Homo sapiens: one gene and its partners. The protein of the gene in region 6 purifies or fractionates together with the protein of the main gene of each other region. This does not show direct contact. Each region holds a gene or a part of one and is shown on either strand. Other genes may lie near its edges. The genes, in order: SON, NDUFA9, FXR1, IQGAP3, DMBT1, PRDM16 and ATAD3A.

The links.
Region 1: the proteins of PRDM16 (region 6) and SON purify together in Homo sapiens (affinity purification with mass spectrometry, with the first as the bait; one large-scale study listed by BioGRID). This does not show direct contact.
Region 2: the proteins of PRDM16 (region 6) and NDUFA9 purify together in Homo sapiens (affinity purification with mass spectrometry, with the first as the bait; one large-scale study listed by BioGRID). This does not show direct contact.
Region 3: the proteins of PRDM16 (region 6) and FXR1 purify together in Homo sapiens (affinity purification with mass spectrometry, with the first as the bait; one large-scale study listed by BioGRID). This does not show direct contact.
Region 4: the proteins of PRDM16 (region 6) and IQGAP3 purify together in Homo sapiens (affinity purification with mass spectrometry, with the first as the bait; one large-scale study listed by BioGRID). This does not show direct contact.
Region 5: the proteins of PRDM16 (region 6) and DMBT1 purify together in Homo sapiens (affinity purification with mass spectrometry; one large-scale study listed by BioGRID and IntAct). This does not show direct contact.
Region 7: the proteins of PRDM16 (region 6) and ATAD3A purify together in Homo sapiens (affinity purification with mass spectrometry, with the first as the bait; one large-scale study listed by BioGRID). This does not show direct contact.

Annotation. Positions count from the first base shown.
Region 1 is NC_000021.9:33,552,557-33,556,964, reverse strand, and holds part of SON (protein SON), read right to left. Parts: coding exon 1,574-4,408; intron 1-1,573. UniProt on the Homo sapiens protein: RNA-binding protein that acts as a mRNA splicing cofactor by promoting efficient splicing of transcripts that possess weak splice sites.
Region 2 is NC_000012.12:4,679,634-4,684,041, forward strand, and holds part of NDUFA9 (NADH dehydrogenase [ubiquinone] 1 alpha subcomplex subunit 9, mitochondrial precursor), read left to right. Parts: intron 1-2,571; coding exon 2,572-2,667; intron 2,668-4,408. UniProt on the Homo sapiens protein: Accessory subunit of the mitochondrial membrane respiratory chain NADH dehydrogenase (Complex I), that is believed not to be involved in catalysis. Required for proper complex I assembly.
Region 3 is NC_000003.12:180,964,330-180,968,737, reverse strand, and holds part of FXR1 (RNA-binding protein FXR1), read right to left. Parts: intron 688-4,408; coding exon 484-687; intron 1-483. UniProt on the Homo sapiens protein: mRNA-binding protein that acts as a regulator of mRNAs translation and/or stability, and which is required for various processes, such as neurogenesis, muscle development and spermatogenesis.
Region 4 is NC_000001.11:156,524,905-156,527,565, reverse strand, and holds the end of IQGAP3 (ras GTPase-activating-like protein IQGAP3), read left to right. Parts: intron 1-966; coding exon 967-1,080; 3' UTR 1,081-2,161; downstream 2,162-2,661.
Region 5 is NC_000010.11:122,626,301-122,630,708, forward strand, and holds part of DMBT1 (scavenger receptor cysteine-rich domain-containing protein DMBT1 isoform e precursor), read left to right. Parts: intron 1-3,539; coding exon 3,540-3,693; intron 3,694-3,987; coding exon 3,988-4,190; intron 4,191-4,408.
Region 6 is NC_000001.11:3,436,203-3,440,029, forward strand, and holds the end of PRDM16 (histone-lysine N-methyltransferase PRDM16), read left to right. Parts: 3' UTR 1-2,419; downstream 2,420-3,827. UniProt on the Homo sapiens protein: Binds DNA and functions as a transcriptional regulator. Displays histone methyltransferase activity and monomethylates 'Lys-9' of histone H3 (H3K9me1) in vitro.
Region 7 is NC_000001.11:1,518,235-1,522,642, forward strand, and holds part of ATAD3A (ATPase family AAA domain-containing protein 3A), read left to right. Parts: intron 1-686; coding exon 687-756; intron 757-1,906; coding exon 1,907-2,072; intron 2,073-2,313; coding exon 2,314-2,383; intron 2,384-4,408. UniProt on the Homo sapiens protein: Essential for mitochondrial network organization, mitochondrial metabolism and cell growth at organism and cellular level. May play an important role in mitochondrial protein synthesis. May also participate in mitochondrial DNA replication.

The DNA of each region.
Region 1 (4,408 bases), on a different chromosome or scaffold from region 6:
AAACCACTGGCTCAAAGTTTTTCAGCAGTGGCCTCATTCAGGGAATTAAGTCCACATATTGAGCTTCCCATTAGAATATTACAATAGGTTACTACACAACTATAATGATCACCCTACTACACACACTCTAAGATATAAACCTGCCAAAGCCTATTTCATTTCACAAAATTATCATGACCTTACTCTCCTTCTGACACCTTAAATCACTCTTTGAGCCCCAGTTCAAGTGCCACCTCTTTTTTTTTTTTTTTTTGAGACAGTCTCACTCTGTCGCCCAGGCTGCAGTGCAGTGGCGCCATCTTGGCTCACTGCAACTTCCACCTCCCAGGTTCAAGTGATTCTCCTGTCTCAGCCTCCCGAGTAGCTGGGACTACAGGCGCGTGCCACCACACCCATCTAATTTTTTGTATTTTTAGTAGAGATGGGGTTTCTCCACATTGGCCAGGCTGGTCTCGAACTCCTGACCTCAGGTGATCCACCTGCCTCGGCCTCCCAAAGTGCTGGGATTACAGGTATGAGCCACCATGCCCAGCCGAAGTGCCACCTCTTCTAACAAGCTGTCATTAAGTCAGAATTAACATTCCTTTTCCCCTTTTCCCATTGTGTTCCTAAAGTACCTCACCTCTATCAGTATTATAGTAATCACATTCTGTCCTTTTTAGACAGTGTTACTATAAGAGAGACATATATGCATTTTACCCATGTCTCCTCCACCACTTGCAATCACTTGAGGAATTACATACTGTTCCTCTGCTGTGAATAAAAAAGAACTCAGAAAACTTCTGTTGAACTGAATGCAGATTCTCCCTTTTTACTCTTAACCTCTTCTTCTTTAGACAATCCTGGCCTAGAAATGTCCAGTATACTGGGATAAGGATAAATTATCCATATTTATTATAGGTAATCATTCATATCGATCAAGTTTTAATCACCTCTGCACACTAAAAATCAGGGGAAATTAGAACAGTTATCTTTAAAGTAAAGCAGAACAGGTTATTAAAAATCACACTGATCTAAAATATTTAACTTTATTTAGCTAGTATCACCTACCCAATTAAATAACCCCCACACGCAAAATTCCCCACTCACTTCCATTACCAACTATACCAATCAGAATTACCTTCATTTAACAGTCCTATAATGCCATTTTAAGATATGTTAACTTATTTAAAAAGGAACATTGTAATTTTAGGCTTAGTTGCAAGGATGTATGTTAGAACACATACAATAACAATCTGAGCATATACTTAGCTTGTTTTTAATTTAGCTAGAGTTCTACATCTGTTTCTGCTTTCAATTTTTAGCTATGGCAAGATAACTAAAACAAAATAAAACATTCAAATATGGAAACACCTTGGTTCTATTATACTCTGAAACAGGACTTTTTAACTCTAATTATAATACACTGATCCCAGTAGTTCCTAAATACAGTACCATGTAATAATAAAAACTTAAAGACAGAAACATTTATCCTAAACCAGTAACTAAGTATTTCACTTGACTCAAGGTCAGAAAAAAATTAAGGTTTAAAACATTTTCTACTACCATCCCATTAAACTTTAAAATGACTCACCCAAATCTGTCAGACGTTTGGGTGATCTGCCTCGTTCAGAAGACCTGGATCTTTTACGACGGATGGGAGATCTGCTAAACCTTCTTCTTAAGGGTGTTCTTGATCGCCTTAATCTGACTGGTGAGATACTGAAGCTTCGTCTTCTTACCACAGACCTTGATCTTCTCCGGCGGCTTGGGGTGCGGCTCCGACGGCTAGGGGTGCGGCTCCGGCGGCTGGGGGTGCGGCTGCGGCGGCTGGGGGTGCGGCTGCGGCGGCTGGGGGTGCGGCTGCGGCGGCTGGGGGTGCGGCTGCGGCGGCTTGGGGAAATGCTAAAGCTCCTTCTTCTACCCACAGATCTAGACCTTCGTCGACGACTTGGAGTATGACTCCGACTCCGACGACTTGGGGTTCGACTTCGAGCTCTAACTGTCTTTCGGTTATCCCTGGAGCTTGATCTTTTTCTTTTTCTTTCCCTAGACTTGGATCTGTGCTTTGGAGATCTTTTGCGCTTCTCTTTTGATACAGATCTTCTTCCTCTAGACTTTGATCTTGATCTGCTGCTTCTCCTCCTGCGTCTTGAACGTGACCGTGAACGTGTCTGAGAGCGATGAGACTTGGACTTAGATGATCTCTTTCTTGCCCTAGAACGAGATTCACTGGTACGCTTGCGTGATTTGTGTTCAGAAGATTTGGAACGCTTACTTCGAGATCTTAATGAAGAGTCTCTTTTCTTCTCTTTCTCCCCCTTATCACGGTTCTTATTTTTCTTGCTTTTTTCGTGAGTGTCCTTAACTTTTACAAAAATTTCATAATCATCTTTTTCCTCTGAAGAAGACTCTGAAGCTCTTTCTGGCATACTACTTACAACCGGGCTGGCAGCAGATCTGTCACGTCCAACATCACTTGCAAGTAAAGGTCCTTCAATGCCAGCTCTAAGGCTTGTAAGACGTTCCATGTCCTTAGGAAGTAACGGTCTCACTAAATCTGCTTCATTAATATCCTCAATATTGGCAGAAAATCCTGAATCAGGCAGTGTCTCTTTAGGAGGGGGAGGTACTTCTTTTTCTCCTCCACTACTTTCTTTAGGGCTGAGCAGAGCTGCTAATGTCTGGTCACTCTCTTTTACAGGTAATGGTTCTTCTGTATCCTTACTAACAAGGTTATTATTAGATGGTAAATCAAGATGAATATCTTTAGCAGGCAAAGGCCCTTCAATGTCAGCTTCACTACCACCACTAGGACTGGTGGAAATTACCATGTCATGTTCAGTATCTTGAGTAGTTAAAGATAAATCAACATCATATTTATTAACTAAACTGAGAGTAGATGCTGTGGTAAATTCAATACCCTTACTAGTTCCTGTTGCATCAGGTTCCAGAGCAAAAGGACCAGTAGAAGATAGAGTTTCTCCTGCATCAGCTTCACTAACACCAGGGTAGGTATCCAATACTGTGCGCTGTTTAGTCTCACTGGTGGGCAAAATTTTCTCTTCACCAATTTCCCCAACAGGACTAGTACCAGCAGCACACACTGTATTATGTTCCATCTCTTTAGCAATTAAATGATTATTTATATTAAGGTCTATATTTATACCATGTTCACTTTCGTAAAAGTCACCTTTCAGGTGTTCCTCAGCATGTGGTTCTTCACCTGAATGCAATGCAATCTCCTGCATGCCAATCTCTGGAGCAAGATTTTGATCACCAGAGGATAGATTAATTCCTTTCATAACATGTGATGACATGATACTAGATTCCAGTATCATTGGTGTGGACTCTATAGCCACCTCAGTTGGTATTACTTGAGTCTGCTCTGAGACTGTGACAGCAGGCTCTGAAACTGTCACAGTCGATTCCTGGACAGAAACAGATGGTTCTGAAACAATCATAGAAGGTTGAAGGACTGACACCGCTGGTTCCAGAACAGGCACAGAAGGCTCCAGCGCAGAAACAACTGGCACAGGAATGGTAACATAGTCTGGCTCAGCCACAACAGGAGGCTCCGGGACAGTCACAACCGAAGGCTCCAGGACAGTTACAGTCGAAGACTCCAGGACAGTCACAGTCGAAGACTCCAGGACGGTCACAGCCGAAGACTCCAGGACAGCCATAGCTGAAGACTCTGGGGCAGCCATGGCTGGCGGCTCCAGAATGCTCTCTGCCAGCACTGGAGTAGTTACTGCTGGAACCAACAAGGATGTAGATACTTCTGAGGCAACATGTCCTGAGGCTCTCATGGAATCAAATGTTTCTGCTGTCTCTGACATAACAGGAGGCTCTGATGCTAACACAGTTGGTTCAGCTGACATGGCGGGAGTTTCAGATACCATACAAGTCACTGGTCTCTCTGGAACAACTTCATGTTCTTCTGCTACTACTGCAGACTCTACAGGTGTTAACGTAATTGAAGATTCTGGCTCTGGTGGTGGTTCTGGAACAGTCACAGCAGCCTCTGATACTAAAACTGAGGGATCTGATGCTGACACTGAATAATCAGTAGGCACTGCTGAAGGCTCCGAAATCTCACTTTGACTCACAGGAGGCTCAGGCTGCGATACAGACTCTTCAGATGGTGATGATGGCACCTCTGTAGGCCAAGTATTTTCAGCTGTTAATGCTGACTGCTCAGTGGGCAATGCTGGACCCTCTGGTGGTTCCTCAGGAGGCAATGGTGGTGTCATTGGTGGCTCCTCAGGTGGCAACGGTGGCATTGTTGGGGGCTCTTCAGGAGGCAAAGGTGGCACCATATATGCCTCTGTATATGTGTCAGTGTAAGAATCGGTGTAAGAATCAGCAGCCATAGACATCATTGAACGATCAGCAGTATAAGATGACATCATAGATCGGTCAGCTG
Region 2 (4,408 bases), on a different chromosome or scaffold from region 6:
TTTGAACATTAGGCAAAGGGCAGATTGGATTGCAGTGAGATTTGAATGGCAGGATAGGAAGTGGAGGCAACAGTTAGGTAACTATTTGGAGAAGTTTCCCTGTAAAAGGGAGCAAAGGAAACGGGTAAAGAGAAGGCTATGAAACATGAATGTCTTGTCAAGGGAGGTACCACCCTGGATTTGGAAGATGGTACATCTTGTTTATAAATTGGTAAGAATGGTCCAGGAAAGAGATGTCACTTCATGACTCAGGAGATGAGGCCGACAGAAAAGGAGCAAAGTCCTTCAGGAATTGAGAGGAGTTGGATACAGAGTGCAAATGAGGGTTTGACCTTTGTAAAAGGCAAACATTTCTTCAACTTTAACAAGGAAAAGAATTCAAGGATATATGCAGATGCAGGTAGGTTTGGCTGTGGGAATGTTAGGAGTATCTTTTCTTGTTGGAATGTGAGGTTAGCTAAAAGGCAGGATGGAGTGGGTCAGAAAAGTGTGTGGAAAATTTGAGGACAGAAGATAGAAAGTATGCCCTGGGAGAACAGGAAAGAGCATTTCCTAGGAGAACATGTGGGATTGCCAAGCAGAACTGAGTGTTCCATTGGAAATTACTGATAAAAAAATAAGGTGAAGTCAATCAGTTCAATTGTATTTCGTCTACAGTTTTGTCCTTCTGGGGTTTCAGGCTCAGAGAAGGCACATGTTTGGGTCAACCAGAGTGAGTTTTGCTTAGCAAGTATAGTGGGTAGGGGCCTGGGAGACAAGATTTTGCTGAGGATATTTGCAGAGGAATAACTGTGATGCTGAGCCTTGAAATCTAAGCTGGGAGGATGCGGGCTTCAATGTACCTTTGGCTGTGAGGAAGGGCACTTAAACTAGTGTTCCGGTTGCACTTGATGGAACACAAAGTGCTTCAGAACAGCTGAAAAGGAAACCTATTATGTAGAGTTAGTTAACCCATGATACCAGTTTTGTTTGTCATCGTAAAAATTCAAGTTGCTCTTGGCGTAGCATGTATTATATGTCCTGTAATGATCCTTACAAATCCCTCTGGAATTTGAAGAACCCTGCTAAGGCCTTTGTCTGATATTTCTCCTGGCTGATAGTTTCATGTTTTTTAGTAAAGTATGTCAGAATAATGAGGTTCTCACTGAATTACCTTCACTCAGCTCTTGGTTGTCACAGATTTACTGTCATGAAGCATGCAAATGAATTAGGAAATGGGTAAAGAAATATTAAAATGCATTATAAGCACTGATACTTATTAATGCTAGGTTAAAATCGTACAGAACTATTCAGATTAATGGAATAGAGCGGAACGTTCAGAAACAGTCCCATTATATGTAAGGATATAGTATGTGATAAGGGTGACATTTCAGTATAGGGAAAGAGGCAGTACAGTAAATGATTCTGTAAGTAGCATTGAAGCAATTGGCTTACATCTTGGGAAAAATATAATTACATGTTTACCTTATATAATGTACAAAAATACGTCACAGAAGGAACTTTATAGTAAAAAAAAAATCTTTTTTATAAGGTTTAGACAAAATATGTAGAAATTTATGTCACTGCAGAGGAATTTTCTAACTATGAATCCAAGCCATAAAGAAAATCAGTAGTTTTGGTTAAATTAAACAGTTAAAATTTTATGTGCACAAAACACTGTAAATAACACTAAAAGTTAAAATACAAACAATAAAAGGTATTTCCAACAATATCACTAAAATATAGAGAATTCTTACAAATTATTTTTATAGACAGGGACTCCAGGAGGAAAGAAAAGATAGATGTATAAATGACCAAAAATTCGTGAAGAAATGATCTCTCATATTAAAGACATAATAATTAAAACATGAGATACCTTTTTTTTTTTAACCTAGCAGATTGGCAAAAATTTTATTTTCTTATGACAACTCATTTCGGGTGGAGGGGGCATTCTTATATATAATTACATATATATAATTATAATTTATATAATTATCTAAAATGTTATATACTTAACATTTTATATAAATTGATAGAACCATTTTGAAAAGCAGTTTAGAAGTATTCAATAAAAGCCTTAAAATTTTAAAGTCTACATTGACCCAGTTCCACTTCTACAAATATATTCTAAATGCGTAATCATGGATAAGTACAAATATTTATTACAAGAATGTTCATTAAAACATTATAAAAGAAAAAAATTTTAATAGCATAAATATCTCAAAACTGGCAATTGATAAAATAATTGTGATTACATGCAGTGTAATATGTTGTCATGAAACATGCAATAAAATAATGATGTGGAAAGACGATTATGATGTAATGTTAAATGAAAAAGACATTACGGAATAGAATGGATTGTGTATTTATTAAAAGCAGAATAATGTATATATGTAAGGGGATGAGAAGGATATAGATCAAATATATTAACTATCTTTCATAATGGGATTATGGGTGATTTTTCTTTGTGCTATTCTGTATCTACTACAGTGCATATATGTTTCCTTTTTTATAAGGAAAATGTTATTTTGTTATAAAGGAAACTTTGTGAGAAGCGTGTAATTGAAAGAACTGTGTATTGTCTTTTTATAGTCCCAGTCGGTACCTCCTTTTCCACCTGGTGAAGTACATCTTTGCTGTGGCTCACAGATTGTTCCTCCCATTCCCCTTGCCGCTTTTTGCCTATCGGTAAGTAGAGTGCTCCTTTTGTGTGACTTCTGAAAAAGCCAGCTCCACACACTTGTTCCTAATGTTCTCCCTTAGGGTTATAGGGTGTGTGAAGGGCTGGTCTCCAGATCTCCTAGTGTTATGACATTAGCATAGAGAAGAAGCAGAAATAGATTAGTGTTGGTTAAAAAAAAATATATTGGAACATTAAATCTTCCCAATTCCCAAAAGTGAATCTTCCCACTTCCCAAAAGTGAAGATGCAGTTCTTCACTTTCTCCAATTTAAAACCATCGAGTTTAATTTTGGAGAAATATCTTGCTAGGCACATATGTAAGGGGCAGTCAGGTTCCCCTGTGTTTCATGTCGCTCATTATTAAATCAACCTGATCATGCTATTGGGGAAAGGAGTCAGGCTAATTCAGACTTGGATTTGTGGTTGCCTTCTCTTCTTTCCCTGCTTCTTAGTTTACTTCTTCTCTTTGTGGGTTAAATATCTTTGACTTGGCTGGGAGTGGTGGCTCATGCCTATAATCCCAGTACTTTGGGAGGCCAAGGAGGGCAGATTGCTTGAGCCCAGGAGTTTGAGACCAGCCTGGGCAATATAGCGAAGCCCCATCTCTACAAAACATACCAAATTAGCTGGATGTGGTGGCATCTGCCTGTAGTCCCACCTACTGGGGTGGAGGTGGGGTGATGCAAGAGAATTGCTTGAGCTTGGGAGTTCAAGGCTTCCAGTGAGCTGAGATTGTGCCACTGCACTCCAGCCTAGGTGACTGCTACTGCGCACAGTGGTGCACACCTATAGTCCCAGCTACTTGGGAGGCTGAGGTGGGAGGATCACTTGAGTTCAGGAGTTTGAATCCAGCCTGGACAACATAGTGAGACCCTGTCTCTGGAACAAAAAAAAAAAAAAGAAAGAAAAGAAAAACCTACTGCCCTGAGGTAACTGTTGATGGGAGCTCCTTTCTCGTCCTAGGTTTTATATTGTCCTGATTTGAACCAAATAAAATAAAATCTTGAACTTACCATGTCACACCCTAGTGGTCTGGTTAAGGAGACTGTCACATCCATTGTGCCACAAACTGATCTTCATTTGGGTTTTCATCCATTCATTCAACAAATGTTTATTGAATGCCTACTATGTCTTAGATAATGTACTAGGTACTCAGAAGGTTACAACAAACACTCAAAAATCTTATGGTCAGAATGTTACAACAAAAACTCAAAAATCTTATGGTCTAACAGGGGTACCAGAAAAATAGACCACTAGAATGCAGGGTGATAACGATATTTATTGAGTGTTACACCTTTCAGACTATTCACTTTGTCTCCTTTAATACTCAGTTATCTATAAAGTAAGTAAGGAGAGTATGTGGAGTGAGTGGAAGAGGAGGCCACAGAGTAAGAGAAACTTACAAGAAGGCCAAAAAGTGATCAGGCATTTAAGTGGGAAATGAGAGTTTGGAATTCTAGATACCAAAGGGAATGGAGTGTTTTCAGGAGAGAATCGATGTTTTAAGAAGGGGAACATTGCTGTTCATTCACATGTATCTCAAGCCCCTAGAACAATGCCTGGTACACATTAGGCACTCTGTTAATATTGGTAGAATGAAGTCTTACAGAAAAGTCAAATAAGATAAAGGACCAAAAAATGTCTACAAATGACCATTGTGACCGTGGCTTCAGTGCCGTGAAAGGGATATAAGCCAGATTGCAGTGAGGCACTTTCATGGTTGTATATAAAATTGAGTTAGAGTTGG
Region 3 (4,408 bases), on a different chromosome or scaffold from region 6:
AATTAAAAAACTTAGTTAATTCCACAATTTTTCCCTGTTCCCAAAGTACTACATAGTGTAGCTAAGAATGCTCTTCACTTCGTTTTCAATATTAAGTATAGAAAAGTACTGACATCTCTCTGTGCATTAGAAATCTCTGGGTCTGTCTGGCAAACAAAAAAACATAACCCCAAAATTCTAGGGAAAACAAAAAAAATTCTAATTAAATAAGCCTCCAAAACCTGAAGAGAGAAACATCTGACCCTCATCATATAAAGAAAAGCTGCCAACTAAAGTTCTGACCAGTATATTCTAAGTAAACCTTCACTGAGAAACACTCTACGAGGGCTTTTCCTGATACTGCTATATGGTCCACTACTTTCTCTAAGACAATGAGTAGCAAGAGAAACTTCCAAAAATGGGTGGCCCTGGGAGATGAATTAACTTTTGTAAAATTAAACTGTTTACAAATAATGGATGCTGACAGAGTATAGAAAAGACTACCAGAACTGATGGAGGATTTGCCACCACGTGGTCCACCACGACCTCGACCCCCTGAAACACTTCTGCCTCTTCCTCCTGGGCGTCTCCTGCTGTCACGCTGATGTCGGCTGTCTCGATCATCTTCTCCTGCCAATGACCAATCACTCAGCTCGTCTTTACGCTCAGATTCCGTTTCAGAGGGGTTAGACAGCTCAGAATTTGTACCTTGGAAAAGAAAAGAACATAAACCACTTAGATTTCTATAAAAAGCCTTTTAAAATGTTCAAAATTATGTCCTACAAATTATTGTTTAAATAAGCAATACTGTTTGGCTGCTTCAAAGAAAGATCCATGAAAGTTAAAATCAATCTGAAACGTACTAAGGAATAATCAATTATTATACTATTAATATACTAGTATAGTATCTACTAGTTAATACAGATTAAAAAATAAACTGATGTGCAGAAGGCCGCTCACTTCTTCAAAACCAGCAGAAGAATCCCTCACTGCAGTCTGCTAAGATGTGCTATGTCATGTAATATAGTCAAAGGTGTGACCATCTCATCAGCAAAAGGGGATAATATCCAGGAAATACAAAGTCATGGAAGTTAAAAAAAAAACTGATGTGCAGAAATGCAGTCAACAGAAAAATTACAGAAAATATACAGAACATTAATTCCTAGGTTTTGGCACCAAAAAAAAAAAACCATACAGAACATCATTTATCAATATTAGAATGTACTTAGTATGGATAGTCAAATGTTTCTGCTGATTTGGGTTTTAGTAACCTAAATTATTAGTACAATAAAAATAACTTCAATATTTGAGTAAATTAATCATATTTAGAAAACTGAATAGTTTAACTGTATAGTGTATTTCACCATAATTTCATTGATTCTAGGGTATACTTTTCACATGTTAACATCTCTGAAATCAAGATATTTCTTATAATTGATGGCATCTTTATTATAAGCTAGAAGTAATTTTTCCAGTAGGTTGTATATAAAATGATGGCATGTTTTACTAGCATCTTAAATTGCGGTTTTTGCCATTAAAAGTAACTACTTTTACTTTTTGCTTTTCTTACTTTTAATGGCAAAAACTGCAATTACTTTTGCACCAACCTAATATTTGCAATTACTAAACAGAATTTAAGGTTTCTCTGAAACAGAAGGTCTCTCACCTGACAACAGAACTGAAGCCATGACCAGTGAGACAAATATTCAGCATTGCCTTTAAAAGTTTACAGACCATTTCTAACACTGCAACTATTGTAATGGTGACCTTTCAAAAATTTATTTAAACACCACAAAGATATAATCAGAGGCCTACATTATCATTATTTAATAATTACTGTAACTCAAATGTCAGATACATATGACTCAATCACTATCATATTCATTTCCACTTGTTAGTTCTGGGATGCCACTTCTTCTTTCCCTCTTATATGACCAAATATATCTCCTTCAGGGCCTAGTTCAAATTCTAACTTCAGACCACTGCAACTAAGACAGATCTCTCCCCATTTTTTGTTATCCTAAAATCGCCCCACATCTATCACAGACTGTGCCATGTTGTTATTTTTTCCCCCTGTGGAATTACTTCAAAATTGGTCTATGATAAAGGGTGGAACTCCATCTTATATGTCCTCAAATGCCTGGCAGAGTGTATAACAATTTTCTCAACCAAATAATTTGCTGCATTATTTTGAAGTTCATTTGCTAAACTCTCAGATAAGAGTGATTTCATGAAATACCTTGAAGTTCCCTATATTTAAACTCTGCAATCATTTGAGGAAAAATGCAAACAAGAGCTCTTCAGACATAAGAAGTTTTAAGTATTAAGGTGCAGGGAATAAAATGTAAAGTTTTATACATGAAGGTGCCTCACTTCCTTTCTCCTTTAACGATAACTCTAGGATGCCTACCTTTTCTCTACATGGTGTTAATAGATGTAACTAGTCAATTATAAAAACAATTAGGTAATTAGTTGGATGTGTATTTTTCAAAGAATACATCAAATTTCTATTACTCACTTTCAATTCTTTGTTGGGATTAGAATCTCAGGGAAGGGAATTAATTTCCCCTAACATTTATTTCACCAAATGACAAAAAGTACTTTATTAACAGGATGTCATAAAAGTTGTAATGAAGGCAATTTATCTTTCCTTGAATAGTGAAAAAAAAAGCCTTTCAGAATGTTTAAGAACTTCTGAATTTATTTACAAACCTATACCCTACCTGAAAACATTACCAAAATTCAGGGCAAATGAAGAATACTTCATTCTGAAGACTCTCTCAAAAGTTCATATTGAAGTATCCTTAGAAATCCAGTGTAGTATTTATCTAACCCCGTGTCACAGCAAGTAAAGTCTTCCTTAAATTTAACCTACATATAGTATTCAAGAGACTTAGAGGGAATGTCTAAATCATAGATTTCAGCAGGTAAAACAGATATTGAGGCCGTACCCCCCAAAATTTTAATGTATTGGCTAGTGCTCAACATTACTCATATTAAATAACTGTTAATAACACATATTAAATGTTTCTGTGATAGCAAAAAGGACTCTGCAAATGTGACTAAGGTTAAGGACCTTGAGATAGAGAGATTATCCTGGATTATCCAGGTGGGTCCAAACTAATCTCACTGGGTCTTTAAAAGTAGAGAAATTTTCTAAACTACTGAAAGGGGAATCCCCGCTAGACTTTCCAGAAAGAAACGTAGCCCAGCTGACAAGATTTTAGCCTAGTGAGACCCATGTCAGCCTTCTGACCAACAGAACTATAAGATAATAAATTTCTGTGGTCAAGCCTCTAAGTTTGTGATAATTTATTACTGCAATAGAAAACAAATACTCTAATAAAATCAGGGAAACCATTTATTCCAGCCTCTCAATTTTGTAAAACACAGGTTGGTGATTCAAAGTCGTTTTTTTAAACAAGCTTTAAAAGTAATGACACTAGGCCAGGCTGGTGGCTCACGCCTGTAATCCCAGCACTTTGGGAGGCGAGGTAGACAGATCACCTGAGGTCTGGAGTTTGAGACGAGCCTGACCAACATGGAGAAACCCTGTCTCTACTAAAAATACAAAATTAGTCAGGCATGGTGGTGCATGCCTGTAATCCCAGCTACTCAGGAAGCTGAGGCAGGAGAATCACTTGAACCCAGGAGGGAGAGGTTGCGGTGAGCCGAGATTGTGCCACTGCACTCCAGCCTGGGCAACAAGAGCGAAACTCCGTCTCAAAAAAAAAAAAGTAACAAAACATAATGACATCGTGTTTTTAACCAATTTTAAAATCATATTTTCCCCTCAAACTTCTAAAATCACCTTATGAAGATGGTTTATATCATTTTTCAATGGTTGGTTGTGCTAAGCTTAACAGCTAAAAATAATCACGTTTTATCGACTCCAAGAGGCCATCAATTTTAAGACATTATTTTATGTGCCATTAAAAAAGAAAATGCTGCTAAAGTTGTAAGATGTCCAATTTAACACACATACCAACTTCAGAGATGTTATACTGGGAAATGTTTCTTATAGTTCCTATTAAACTGATAAAACTACAGTACTCATTATATATATATATATATATATATATATAAATCAACTACAAGTCCCTCTGATATAATGTATACATGAACGTCTACAACCAAATTCAAATGGTTTTTCTTGCTTTTCCAAGCCCACTCAGGTTCAGTAACTATTTCAAGAAATAAAATGTTATCAATTCCACTAAGATTCAGAGCTAAGAGTGCCATCTACTGAACAATTTGCACAGCTTTCTTGAATCCAGATGTTTCTCTACCTCTCACATAATTATCTACTCTCAACAAAAGCATTTTGCCAGAGTAAGCTCTCATCAATAAGCCGACTTCCCACAAAAGCTAATAAAATTATTCAATGAATTCATCATACGCATCATCCAATAAGCCAAGTCTGATTATC
Region 4 (2,661 bases), about 150 Mb from region 6:
CCAGTGTTCAGGAAAGGAGTGAAGCAACGGTGTTTTTGGTTGTGGTTGTTGTTGTTGCTTTTTTGGGTTTTTGTTTGTTTGTTTTCTTGAGACGGAGCCTTACTCCGTCACCCAGGCTGGAGTGCAATGGCGCAATCTCAGCTCACTGCAACCTCTGCCTCCTGGGTTCAAGCGATTCTCCTGCCTCAGCTTCCTGAGTAGCTGGGATTACAGGCGTGCGCCACCACACCGGCTTTTTGTGTATTTTTAGTAGAGATGGGGTTTCACCATGTTGGTCAGGCTGGTCTTGAACTGCTGACCTTGTGATCCGCCCGCCTCAGCCTCCCAAAATGCTGGGATTTACAGGCATGAGTCACCATGCCCAGCCGAGCAGTAGTTTTTAATCCAAATCTTTTTGCTCTGATGTTTTACCTTTTGAGTAAGAAAAATGATTTTGGCCGGGTGCAGTGGCTCACGCCTGTAATCCCAGCACTTTGGGAGGCCGAGGCGGGCGGATCACGAGGTCAGCAGTTCAAGACCAGCCTGGCCAATATAGTGAAACCCTGTCTCTACTAAAAATACAAAAATTAGCCTGGCGTGGTGGCACCTGCCTGTAATCCCAGCTACTCAGGAGGCTGAAGCAGGAAAATCGCTTGAACCTGGGAGGCGGAGATTGCAGCGATCCGAGATCGCGCCACTGCACTGTAGCCTGGGAGACCGAGTGAGACTCCGTCTCAAAAAAATAAATAAATAAAATAAGAAAAACAATTTCAAGCCCTGGTTCTGCTTGAGTTGACATTTGATCAAGTCACTGTACCTCTCTTGCCTCAGTTTCCTCATTTGTGAAGTGGGATTTCAATGCCCTACTTCAGTGGCCAGTGCCACTGGTGACTGCAGAAGGCCCCATGATGTGAGTGTTTTGTACACCATCTGACTGGACCACATTCAGAAGCCCTTAAACTCCCCTCCCTGCCTCTTCCCTCCTAGGATCTCCTGCAGCTCCAGTATGAGGGTGTGGCTGTCATGAAACTCTTCAACAAGGCCAAAGTCAATGTCAACCTTCTCATCTTCCTCCTCAACAAGAAGTTTTTGCGGAAGTGACAGAGGCAAAGGGTGCTACCCAAGCCCCTCTTACCTCTCTGGATGCTTTCTTTAACACTAACTCACCACTGTGCTTCCCTGCAGACACCTAGAGCTCAGGACTGGGCAAGGCCCAGGGATTCTCACCCCTTCCCCAGCTGGGAGGAGCTTGCCTGCCTGGCCACAGACAGTGTATCTTCTAATTGGCTAAAGTGGGCCTTGCCCAGAGTCCAGCTGTGTGGCTTTTATCATGCATGACAAACCCCTGGCTTTCCTGCCAGATGGTAGGACATGGACCTTGACCTGGGAAAGCCATTACTCTTGTGTCTGCTACTGCCCTCCCACAGTCACCCCAATATTACAAGCACTGCCCCAGCGGCTTGATTTCCCCTCTGCCTTCCTTCTCTCTGCACTCCCACAAAGCCAGGGCCAGGCTCCCCATCCCTACCTCCCACTGCATCAGCAGTGGGTGTTCCTGCCCTTCCTGAGTCTAGGCAGCTCTGCTGCTGTGATCTGCACACCCTCCAACCTGGGCAGGGACTGGGGGGATGCAGTGTGTGTTAGTGCCCATGTGGCATTGTGGCACTGTTGCCCCCCATGGCGGCATGGGCAAGATGACCTTCCATTAGCTTCAAGTCTTGTTCTCTTGTCTGTGGTCTGTTTAATATGTGGGTCACTAGGGTATTTATTCTTTCTCCCATCCTTACACTCTGGATCATTGTGCAGACTTAATCAGGGTTTTAACGCTTTCATTTTTTTTTTTTTTTTTTTTTTTTTGAGCTCAAAGAGAGTTCTCATTTTCCCTATTCAAACTAATACCCATGCCGTGTTTTTTACCTTGGATTTAAAGTCACCTTAGGTTGGGGCAACAGATTCTCACTCATGTTTAAGATCTTGTTATTTCAGCTTCATAAGATCAAAGAGGAGTCTTTCCCTTTTCTCTTTTACCCTCAGGATTCTCATCCCTTACAGCTGACTCTTCCAGGCAATTTCCATAGATCTGCAGTCCTGCCTCTGCCACAGTCTCTCTGTTGTCCCCACATCTACCCAACTTCCTGTACTGTTGCCCTTCTGATGTTAATAAAAGCAGCTGTTACTCCCACATCTGTTGTTAACCCTTATTTCATTTTCTGTAGAGCCGGCCTTTAAGTTCTGGAACACAGCTCCCTGAGAGAACTGGGGAATCCTTCCTGCAGCCTCCCCCAGCCCTCTGCCTGCCTCCGGTGTGGTCCTACTCTGCCTGCCTGAGATCGTAAAAGCTTAATGAGATGTGGCATTTATTCTCTCTTCCTTCCCCCGGGGGACAGAGAGGAGGAAGGAATGCTTAGGTTTCTATTCTGTTTTTATCGGCCACTCTGAAGACTAAAGCTGAGAAGAGAAGCCACTCTAATTTCTACCCCACCCGTTTTACACACAGTTCCTGCAGGTTCTTTTCCTGAGCCTTGGGTGGTGATATCAAAGGTGCTTAAGCCATAACTCCTTAGGTATTGTAGATTCTACACTCTGATCAAAATCTCCTTTCTGAAGGGAAAGCTCCCTCCTTTCCTCCTTGCTTTCAGAAAGTAGGGAGGGAAGTCTGTTGGGGAGGGGACAGTAGAGACA
Region 5 (4,408 bases), on a different chromosome or scaffold from region 6:
TTAAAAAATAATAGGGATACTTTTCTGTGTTATTAAATCTTTTCTCACAATCATTTTAAGTCCCTGTATTGTATTCTATTATACAGATATGCCATGAATTATTTGACAAATCATCAGATGCTAGATATTTGTTTGTATTTCTTCATTACTGTAAATGATTTTGTGATGAAGAATATTTTTATAGATAATTTTTTTGCATACCTCACTAATTTTTCCTTTAGGATATAAATGGGTTTACTGGACCAAAGTCAATGTCATTGTAGTGCCTGGTACATAGAATGTACTTCATGCATATTAACTTTTACTGTGTTAGGTATTTTAAGATCTTGCTGTGTGTATGGTCAAACTACCATCAAGAATGGTTGTAAAATTATGGAATGATGTAAGAGACAAACTGATCTTCTTCCTCAGAGCTCACAATATTATTTTGTACACAACAAACTAGAAAATTACAGTTGTGACAACTGTTTCCAAGGAAAAGTTCAGTGTGCAAAGAGGAAGTATTAGTAGAGATCTTCCTTGATTGGGGAGTTAGGGGAAGTTCCTTATGGAAGTGACATTTAAGCTGGGAGTTAATAGAGGAGCAGGTTCATTTGCTGAAGTGTCTTCTAACCAGAAGGGATGCTTTGAAGGCCCTAGGGTGGGAAGGAGCTTGGCTCTTTGAAGGAGGGTGGGGTGCGGGCAAGGAGGGACTGCAGGAAATCTGTCGGGTGAGGCCAGATCATTCAGGGCCTTGTGGGTGGGTTAAGACTCCCATCTTTATCCTAAAGGTAGGGAGGCTGCAGAAAGATTTTAATCTTGAGAATTAGCTAATTGGAAATATATTTGCAAAAGATCATGTTTATCTTTTCTGCCAAACTGCATTTCCTGAAGGCAGGGGCCATGTCTGCCTTTTTCATAATGTATCCTTATTATCTAGCATTGTGTCTGCCTTTCAAGAACTGTTTATTGAAGGAATAAATGAGTGAATGAATGAATGGATAAATTAATGAATAAATACATAATTACTGTTGGCATTTTGGCATACATTCCATACACTGTATACACACACACAAACACACACACACACACAGTATGGCATGCTTTATATCCCATTGTATAACCCATCATTTTCATTTAAGTGTATATAATACTTTTTTCATGACCTTAAAATTAGCATTTTTATAACATTGAAATTATTTGTATAGAAGAAGGTTTAATGACTATATGATTTTCCACTGTATAGATATATCATCATTTAGTTAAACGGTTACTAATTGTGGGGCAAAAACATTGTTTCCAATTATATTTTATAATGTTAAGTGACTATATACAATAGCATATTTTATAACCATTTATATTTAATGATTAGAAATATGTAACTCGTATCCTTGTCTCTGAAAGTTTGACTTTATCCTTAATTATTTCCCAGTGTAGAAATAGAAAGGGAGGGCAGGCCACATGATCTTCAAGAAACACTGTCTTCCCATCAAATGGGAGAACGTATTTCTATCTCATAAGGGACTTGTATCTAGGATATATAAGTGACTCTTGTAGTCAATGATAAAAAGTCAAATAACCCAACTGAACAATGAGCAAAAGACCTGAAAGATATTTCTCTACAGAAGATTCACAGATAGCAGAGAAGGCATTGGAAAGATGCTCAATGTCATTAGCCGTCAGGGTCATGCAAATGAAACACCCAGTAGGTGGGCTGTAGTCAAAAAGCCAGATAATAGCAAGTGTTGATGAGGATGTGGAGAAATTGGAAACCTTATGCACGGCTGCAGGGAATGTAAAATGGTACAGCCACTTTGAGAAGCAGTTTGGTGGCTCCTCGAAAGGTTAGACCTGGAGTCACCATATGACCCAGCAGTTGTATTCCTAGGTATATACCCAGGAGAAATGAAAACATATGTCCATACAGAAACTTGTATGTGAATGTTCAGGACAGCTTTATTCATAGTAGCCAAATGTGAATGCAATGCAAATGTCCATCATGGTGAATCGAGAAACAAATATGATATGTCCATGCAGTGGAGTATTATTTGGCAATAAAAATGAATTTAATAGTGGCCGGGCGCGGTGGCTCATACCTGTAATCCCAGCATTTTGGGAGGCCAAGATGGGCGGATTGGCTGAGGTCAGGACTTCGAGACCAGCCTGGACAACGTGGTGAAACCCTGTCTCTACTAAAAATACAAAAATTAGCTGGGCATAGTGGTGGGCGGCTGTAATCCCAGCTACTTGGGAAGCTGGGGCAGGAGAATCGCTTGAACCCGGGAAGCGGAGGTTGCAGTAAGCTGAGATCGTGCCACTGCACTCCAGCCTGGGTGACAAGAGCGAAACTCCATCTCAAAACAAAACAAAAGAAAAAAAAGAATTTAATATTGATTTATGCTACAACATGATGAACTTTGAAAACACATTGAGAAGTCAGTCAAAAAAACTACCATATTGTACAATTTGTTTTATATGAAATGTCCACAATAGGCAAATCTATAGAGACAGAAAAGTAGATCAGTGGGTGCCAGGAATGGAGGGTGTTGAGAAGAAATGGGGAGTGATTGCTAATGAGTACAGGGTTTCTTTTTGGGGTGATGAAAATAATCTAAAATTGACTGTGGTGATTTCAGAGCTCTCAGTATGCTAAAAACCATGGACTTATCCCCTTAGAAAAAGTAAACAAAGAGTTATGAAAAAGAAAAAAAAAGACGTTTTAATTTCTATCACTGAGTGTGCACATGTTTTTAAAAAGTTTTTATTACTATAAACCAACCAACAAAATGTTTGACCACTTAATATTTATCCTTTTCTGATAAATAACAATAGCTAATATTGCTGGGTGCTTATGTGCCTGGCACTCTCTAAGAGTTTATATAGACATAGAAACCTATCTTATGTTTATGTATAAATGTTCATATATACATATCTTATTTAATACCCTCATCAGACAGATGAGGCAGATGCCATTACCACTCTCATTTTTCTGATGAGGAAACTGAGGCAGAGAGGTTAAGTAACTGGCTCCAGATCATGGAGCTGATAGAGGCAGAGCCAAGATGCAAACCCAGGCTTCTTGTTGCAGAAACCCTGCTCCTAACCCAACGTTGTGCTACTTGTGAATTGGCAGAGTCCTGTGCTCATGGAAGACGCTAGGGAACACACTGTGTTATGGAGTGCTCTCCACGGGTCAGCACTGTGTTCAGCCAGGACTATCCCACGTCCCTGTCTGTAGCTGATTGAACAATGATAGCTGTCACTTTGTTGCTTTCTTGGCATTTTTGCTAGAGGTGACACATGCTCCCTCTGAAGCTTGGGTCACCTCCTCGCAGAGGGTTGCTGTCCAGGCCTAACAGGGAAAGCAGGGACTTGAATCAAAGCTTCTAATGTTGGGCCACCTAGAACCAGGCCCAAGAGAGGGGACTTGTTTACAGGGAAAGTTAAGTCTTGTTATAAAGTGCAGAAGATGAAACTGGATGATACTTACACAGATGATTCCTTGTCACAAAATACCTGAAGACCTGGTACAATGGAGATGTCCCCTCTCTCCTCTCTAGGACCCTCTTCAAATTGTGGTGGCTTCTTATTCTATGCCAGTGGGACATTCTCCAGCCCATCCTACCCTGCATACTACCCCAACAATGCTAAGTGTGTTTGGGAAATAGAAGTGAATTCTGGTTATCGCATAAACCTGGGCTTCAGTAATCTGAAGTAAGTAATGCCTGGTCATCTGGTGAGGGGTGAGTTCCTCTGCAGCACACCCACTGGTTTAGACTGTGTCCTGGGCTGGGATGCTTTTCACTCTCATGTGCCATGGACAAGCTTTTGGTGGCTTTGATTCCTACCATAAAGCATCAGGGAACACTGATGTCCTTTGACTTAATTGAGGAAGAGCTAGAAGAAAAACCTGTATTCAATGGCATCCCTCGTAAAGTGCAAACTATTTATAAAATGGAGGGGCAATAGGAATTTCAATGTTGACTTGAATACATTTTCTCCATACAGATTGGAGGCACACCATAACTGCAGTTTTGATTATGTTGAAATCTTTGATGGATCATTGAATAGCAGTCTCCTGCTGGGGAAAATCTGTAATGATACCAGGCAAATATTTACATCTTCTTACAACCGAATGACCATTCACTTTCGAAGTGACATCAGTTTCCAAAACACTGGCTTTTTGGCTTGGTATAACTCCTTCCCAAGCGGTAAGTGCACACTAGACCATGCCTATGAGGCTTGGTGGATTTACCCAGCTGCCTCTTTGGGGGCACCATGGTTCCCCAAGGAAATCAAAGAAGGGCCTCAGCGATGCACGGCCCATTCTCTTTCTCTTGGCACTGACTGTGTGGGCAGGCCCTTGGGAAGGCAGCAAAGGGTGCAGACTGGGGGTTCCACCTGGCCTTGGGTCTGCCACCAACTCTCC
Region 6 (3,827 bases):
TTTTTTTTTGCAATATGACCCCGTCTCTCTGAAGTGGGACATTCGGACGGATGGAGCCCTCAGCGTGTCTTTTCAGCAGGAGCAGAACCGATGAGAGCCGCCCTTACCGTTGGTCTCCGGATCCCCCAGTCCCATCCCGCCGTTTTCGGCTGTCTTCCTAACCGTCCTGTCTTCTCTTGGCGCTCTTTCCTTCCACCTTTCCCAAGAGTCCTGGTTGCACGTTTTAAGTCATATATTTTCGTCCCCCTGAAAATGATGGCAAGCCCAGTTTCTCCTGAGCATTCAGACCCCCAGGCCCCAGCACTTGGCGTTTTCAGGAGGCCCTGTTCTTAGAGCCCCTGACAAAGGCAGCACTTATTTCCTGGGCTGGTGCGCCCCAAAACACGGCCCCGACACTTAGTGTGGCCCCAGGCCCCAGCGAGCCTCGCCCTCCCAGTTTTGCTCTGCCCAGCAGTGTTGGTGCCCAGAGATGACAAGGGCCAGGGAGCCTGGCCCGGGTGTGAGAATTCAGAGATTCTGGCCTCCAGCTGTCACCACACCGTAACGGGGCCATGTAACTGTGCAGCATGGACAGGGATGCGACGGGGCAGCTGGCTGTGTCCATGGCCAGGTGGCCAGGGTCAGGGCTGCAAGCCAGGGGTCCAGGGCCCTTCCGTTCAGCCCAAATGCTGCCCCAATGCTAACTCCTTGGATTGTCAACCCCCATCCCCCAAATGGAAATTCCGAAGGAGGCCTCCTCGCACCTGCCCTCCGCTGCTCCTCAGACCCCAGCCCCCAGCGAGCCGACGTCCCCACCCGTTCCTGCTCTCATCCCCAGGTTGGGCACGTGGGGTTCCTCCTCTGTGGGCCTGGCAGACCCTTCATGAGTGGGACCCAAGATATCACTGACTTCAACCCAGAGGATCGAGCCCCTGCACCCTGCCTGGGGCCCTGGGGTGTGGAGCAGTGGCTGGGGTGGGCGTGGTGTGGCCTGAGAGACTGCCCAGCTGGAGAGGCCTTCCTTTACAAGGCCACGCGTGCAGCTGTCCCATCCAGACCCCGACTGGCCAAGACCTCCACGTCCCCAGAGTCCAGCCCTGGAAATTCCAAGGGCCCTGGCGTCCTCTGCCTTCCCCGCTTCCCCATGAGCGTCTGCAAAACACTTGCCTGAATACATATCACGTATTTTAGACTCGAAGCCTCAAAGCACTGGATTGTGGTCCCCTGCCCCCTCTGTCCCGTCCCCCTGCCCAAGTGACTGAAACCTACTGAGCTATATTCACTGTGCTGTCCTAGGGGGAGGGAGAGCAGAGCTCGCCCCTGCACTGCAGCCTTGTGGGGGAGGGCAAGGCTCTCCTCCCAGCCAGGGACGCCAGGACATAGCTGCTCCTGGTCAGTGGAGGTCAGCCGGGTATCAAAAGCCATGAAACTGTGTCTCTGTAGCAATGAGTGATACTGTGACAAAACCATCCTTGCATTCTTCCTAGAAGAGTTCCTCTGCTCCTTCCATTCCATTTTTGTGTTTGTTTTGTTCTTTTCTGTCACTGATCCGTATTACCACTTTTGGAAAAAAATAAATAAATAAATAAATAAAAGGCAGCTTGAGTTTCCAAACGTGTGATTCACTTGTGAACAAAAGTCATTCTAACAATTGCCTTCAGCGTCACGTGCATTGCCACTGCGCTTTCGGCACGAGGGATGCTGAGCCCTGGTGTCAGAGTCGTAATTTAAAGCGTGTGTGTATATGGACTTTGTCCCTTAAGGTCGATATAAAGAATCCTCGCAGAATCACAGACCTGTGCCGCCCGCCACCTTCTGCCATTGTTACATTACAGATTTGGTTTAGTTTTGTTTTGTTTTGTTTTTTCTTTTAGAACTGTATAGTATTGAAAAAGAAATCAAATGTAAATGTCTGGTTTTCATATAATGTTTAAAAAGACCATTGAGAAGGAGGCTGGCGCTCGCCCCATGTCCCCCTTGATTGTAAATTGCTTCTGTTCTGTTTATAAGTAAACTGTGCATGACTCCTGCTTAGCGGTCATTATCGTGTCTGTTGGTGAAATTTTTATTAAAAGGAAAATTCTGTAGATGCACTTATTGAATATGTGATTAGGATCTACGTCTGAGACTAGGAGTCCTGAACTGCTGACGCGAAAGAGGCGCAGTTCCCAATTAATACGGAAATCGCTGTGGGAGAAGAATGAAATAAGACGTGAAGTGTAGGAAATCATGAAAAGAACAATTTTGCAAATTGCATTCTGATGCTTGTGATGAACACAAATGTACTTGTGTAGAGACATTTCCTTAAGAGAAAGCCTAGGAGAAGCCGATTTGGAGGTTAATGCTGTAGAATAGGACTGTATACCAAATGTAATCTTTCCAATGCTCCAATGAATTTATACATGAGATTGATATGCAATAAATCTGTGTGCTTTTCTAAGCCTCGGTGCCCGCGAGCTTCATTGAGGGAGAGGCCCCAGGCCTGTGGAAGGGAGAGGAGGAGCAAGCCAGGGCTCGGCCGAGGTCCAGGCTCCCTGGCTTTGACTGAGGAGTCCCGGGGCCAGGCCCTGATGCCCTTGGAGCTTTGTTCCCTCCACCCTCCGGGGCAGACTCCTGGCTATTCCCATTTTCCAGAAAAGAATAAGCTCAGGAAGGCATCAACTCCCTGGATGGCCCCAGAGCGAGCACAGTGACCTCCAGGTGTGTCCCTCTGCCAAGCATGACAGCCTCCAGATGCAGCAGCCTCCAGGCATGTCCCCCAACTGTGCCTGCCTCCAGGTACACAGGACCCAGGGCCCACCCCACAGGCCTTGCCCCAAGGCTTCCTGGGGATGCAGCATTCCCTGTTGGAGGTGCTGGGGGAACCCGTCTTCCATGCCAGCAGTCCCCACGCTTTTTAGCACCAGGGACTGGTTTCGTGGCAGACAGTTTTTCCAAAGACCAGGGGATGGATGGTTTGGGGCTGATTCAAATGCATTACATATATCGTCCACTTTATTTCCATTATTATTACATTAGAGTATATAATGAAATAATTCTACAACTCACCATAGTGTACAATCCGTGGGAGTCCTGAGCTTGTTTTCCTGCAACTAGGCCTTCCCATCTAAGGGTGATGGGAGACAGTGACAGATCATCAGGCATTAGATGCTCACAAGGAGCGTGCAGCCTCGATCCCTCGCACTCGCAGTTCACAATAGGGTTCCCGCCCCCATGAGAATCTCACGCCGCCACTGATCTGATGGGAGGTGGAGTGCAGACGGTGATGCAGACGATGGGGCGTGGCTGTAAACACAGAGGAAGCTGGGTTCCGCTGCGCCCCCCATGCTGTGTGGCCCGGTTCCTAACAGGCCAAGAACTGGTCCTGGCCCATGGCCTGGGGTCTGGGGGCCTCTGTTCTAGGCCAGTCCTCAACCCACCCCTTCCTAAGGGTGGCCCTCCCCATGTCAGCCTCCCTGAAGTCTGTGTCCACCAGCACCTCACATGGCCTGATGCTGCCCTGACAAGGGACAGCCACAGGGGTGGGATAGGGGGTGAGCTAGAGGCCCCGGGGCTGGAGCAGACCCAGTCCCCTCAGGGGCTTCTCTTGTCTACCCCCAGACTGCCCCTGGGATTCCTTCCTGGGGCCCTCCTGCCTCTGGGAGAGGCTCCATTCCCCTACCCTGATTCTGCTCTGACCCAGAAGCCTAGGGGGCGTAAACCTCAAAGGGGAATGTCCAGCCAGACCGAGCCCAGCCTCCCCAACCAGGACTGCCCCAAACCGTCTCACCCACGTAGGCCCCCACTGGCTCCCTGCTGACACAGAGTTTAACTGATGTCACCCAGGTGACCTGGCCTCCCACCCCCAC
Region 7 (4,408 bases), 1.9 Mb from region 6:
CCCCGCACACACACACACAGATACGCACACACACACCACACACAGGTACGTACCCCCCCACACACACACAGGCGCACACATACCCCCCACAGGCTCACTGGCACCCGCGCACTCGGGCACACACACAGCCCCACACACACAGGCGCACACCCACACACACATGGGCATGCCCCCCCATAGACGGACACACACACACCCACACACATGGGCGCGCGTACACCCCCCTATACACATGGGCACAGCCCCCCCGCACACATGGGCACGCACACAACCCCCCCACATGGGCGCACAGACCCCACACACACATACGGGCACACACGCCTTCCCGTCACAGGGACACACACACACACCCGCACATGGGCACACACCCACACACGGGCGTACACACCCCCCCCCACAGGCACGCACAACCCCCCCACCCCCCGCACGGGTACACACACACACACACACACACACCCAAACGGGTGCACAACCCACCCACACATGGGCACAATCACCCCCACACACATGGGCACAGTCACCCGCCTGCACATTCGGGCACCGTCACCCCCCGCAAACGGGCACCGTCACACCCCGCAAACGGGCACACTCACCCCCCTGCACACTCGGGCACAGTCATCCCCCGCACACATGGGCACAGTCACAGGTTTTAAAGGCTTTTCTCTTTTTCTGCGGCTTCTTCTCAGCAACTTCTCAATGAGGAGAATTTACGGAAGCAGGAGGAGTCCGTGCAGAAGCAGGAAGCCATGCGGCGAGGTAGGCTGTCTGCTCTCCTGGCTGGGGCGGAGGTGGCGGGGGCTGCTTGTGGACCCGGCGTGCACTCTGAGCCTGAGTTCTGCCGCCCGGCCCCTCATAGCTACCAGTGCAGTGGGCGAGGCCTGCTGGGGCTCCGCGGGGTGGGGCTGCCTCTCGGAAGACACCTCTGTCTGCGAGTGGACGCCAGGATCTGTTCAGGGAGGGCAGGAGCTGCTTCACTTCATGGGAAGTACAGGGGCCTTTTTTTTTTTTTTGAGACGGAGTCTCGCTCTGTCACCCAGGCAGGAGTGCAATAGCACGATCTCAGCTCACTGCAACCTCTGCCTCCCAGGTTTAAGCAATTCTCCTGCCTCAGCCTCCCGAGTAGCTGGGATTATAGGCTCCCGCCACCACGCCCAGCTAATTTTTTTGTATCTTCAGTAGAGAAAGGGTTTCACTGTGTTGGCCAGGCTGGTCTTGAACTTCTTGATCTCATTATCCGCCTGCCTTGGCCTTCCACAGTGCTGGGATTACAGGCGTGAGCCTCTGCGTTCTGCCTAGAACATGGGTCTTTACTGTCCTGGTTTCAGTGGGGATCACAGGTATTTGGTGCCATGTGGCATTTGTTGGCGAGTGCTCCAGGCAAACGTCTGTCACCACTCTTCACCGTGGGTGGGCTTGTGGCGAGGTGTGTGCGTTTAATGTTCAGTAGCCAGGCACGTGGCACGTCACGCGTGTCTGAGTTCTGACAGCTGTGTTTCTGTGTGAGGGGGGCTTCCTTCAGAACTCCGCGTTCTGGTTTTTTGCTTCAAAGAGCTCGTCCTGAGAAGTTGCCTAGGCCTCTGGGTCGGATTTCTGCCCTAATCCATGGGCAGGGCCGGCCTGTGGCGCTGTCCCTACCAAGGTCTGTGTGTGTCTGTGGCATGGACCTGTCCGTGGCCTTAGCCTATTGGCGGCGTGGGCCTGTCTGTGGCGTGGGCCTGTCCGTGGCCTTAGCCTGTCAGCAGTGTGGGCCTGTCCATGGCGTGGGCCGGTCCGTGGCATGGGCCTGTCTGTGGCGTTGGTCTGTCCGTGGCGTGGGCCGGTCCGTGGCGTGGGCCGGTCCACAGTGTGGGTGGAGGTGGACGCGCTGCACTGCATGGTGCTGAGCTGCCCTGCCTCTCTGGGGCAGCCACCGTGGAGCGGGAGATGGAGCTGCGGCACAAGAATGAGATGCTGCGAGTGGAGGCCGAGGCCCGGGCGCGCGCCAAGGCCGAGCGGGAGAATGCAGACATCATCCGCGAGCAGATCCGCCTGAAGGCGGCCGAGCACCGTCAGACCGTCTTGGAGTCCATCAGGTGAGCACTGCCGAGGCCCGGGCCGGCCACAGATGGAGCCCCGCAGGTGTGAGTCGCTGGTCCCAGGGCGCTCTCCAGCTCTTCCAGGCCTTGCCGCCGTAGGCTGACTCCTTGGTGGGGGCACTGCCCCTCTGTCCTGGCAAGGCCGTGCCGCCATGTCAGGGCCTCACCCTCAACCTGCTCTCGCTGCGTGGCACGGATCTTCGTGTCCTTCCTGGTCACACCACTGCTTTCCCCGCAGGACGGCTGGCACCTTGTTTGGGGAAGGATTCCGTGCCTTTGTGACAGACTGGGACAAAGTGACAGCCACGGTAAACATACTCATAAAACAGGGCTGGCAGGTGGCTGAGGGGCAGCATGTGGGGGCCTCCTGGAGCCCCAGGTCCTGTCCCTGCCGGCTCTGCACAGCCCTGTAGCTCTCCCAGCAGGGAGGAAGCCCACGTTGTACCTGCTGGCCTCGGCTTCTCCTCCCTTCTCAAGCTGGGAGAAGAAAACGCAGTTGCCAGCCTGGGCCACACAGTGAGACCCCATCTCTACAAAAAATCAAATATTAGCTGGGTGTGGTGGCAGCCCCTGTGGTCCCACTACTCAAGAGGCTGAGGTAGGAGGATCACTTAAGCCCAGGGAGGTTGCAGCTGCACTGAGCTGAGATCGCAGCACTGCACTCCATCCTGGGCGACAAAGTCCTTGTCTCAAGAAAAAAATTGTCGATAGTCGTGGCTCACACCTGTAATCCCAGCACTTTGGGAGGCAGAGGCAGAGGCGGGCGGATCACGATATCGGGATCGAGACCATCCTGGCTAACACGGTGAAACCCCGTCTCTACTAAAAAAATACAAAAAATTAGCCGGGCGCAGTGGCGGGCGCCTATAGTCCCAGCTACTCAAGAGGCTGAGGCAGGAGAATCACCTGAACCCGGGAGGCGGAGCTTGCAGTGAGTCGAGATCACGCTACTGCACTCCAGCCTGGGCCACATAGTGAGGCTTCTTCTCAAAAAAAAAAAAAAAAAAAAAAAAAAAAAAACCAGAAGGCAACCCTGACTCCATTTTGCAAAAACCTTCTTTATTCCTTATAAAACCCTGAGAGTTTGAAGTTCACAGATTCTTCTCTCGTTTAAAGCCTCACTCTTTTGTGCCCAGCCTCCGGCCTGCTGTGGTGGCGCCCCACGTCCCACATGGCTGTGTCCTCCGTCCCCACCCCGCCCAGCACACGGTAGGTGCCCGGCACTGAGTGGGCACTTGCTCTGCCGTGGTGCCGGCGCCCAGAGCTGTGACTGCAGCGCCTGCCGGTGGCCTGGTCAGTGTGACGGTGAATGTTGCAGGTGGTGTTGCCACCATGTTGGTGAGACCGTGTCACGTGAGGACATGACGGAGCTGCTTAATGCGCCGATGACTTTTGTTTGTTTGTTTTTAGAGACAGGGTCTTGCTCTGTGGTCAGACTGGAGTGCAATGGTGCCATCTCGGCTCACTGCAACCTCCACCTCCCCAGTTCAAGCAGTTCTCCTGCCTCAGCCTCCCAAGTGACTGGGATTACAGGCTCACGTCACCACACTCAGCTAATATAGGCCTGTGCCACCAGGCCCGGCCAATTTTTGTATTTTTAGTAGAGATGGGTTTTCACCATGTTGGCCAGGCTGGTCACGAACTTCTGACCTTAAGTGATCCAGCCGTCTTGGCCTCCCAAAGTGCTGGGATTACACGGGTGAGCCACCGGGCCTGGCCTAATTCATTTTTTGTTTGTTTGTTTTTTGAGACAGAGTTTTGCTCTTGTTGCATAGGCTGGAGTGTAGTGGCGCGGGTCCAGCTCATTGCAACCTTTGCCTTCCGGGTTCAAGAGATTCTCCTGCCTCAGCCTCCCAAGTAGATGGGATTACAGGCATGTGCCACCATGGCCAGCTAATTTTTTGTATTTTTAGTAGAGACGGGGTTTCTCCATGTGGGTTAGGCTGGTCTTGAACTCTTGACCTCAGGTGATCCACCTGCCTCAGCCTCCCAAAGTGCTGGGATTACAGACCTGAGCTACTGTGCCCAGCCAGCCTAATTGATTTTTAAAACGAGTTAGAGATTTTGGGTTAGTCTTGTTTTCCAGGAATAAAGTACCATTTTTAGTGGCCAAGAATGTACCAGAGGGTGTGGCCCTGTGACATCCGGCTGGGTCTGTCCAGGGCCCCGCTCAGCGACCGAGGCTTTCTAGGATTTATGCTGCCAGTTGCAGAGAAAATGGCCCTGAGTGAGGGCGCTGTGACTGCCCCACCTGCCTCCTGTAACCGCGTGGCTGTGGGATTCGGGGCCGGGAATTCGCGTTCCTGTGGGGCCAGTGCACGGCCCTGTGCTTC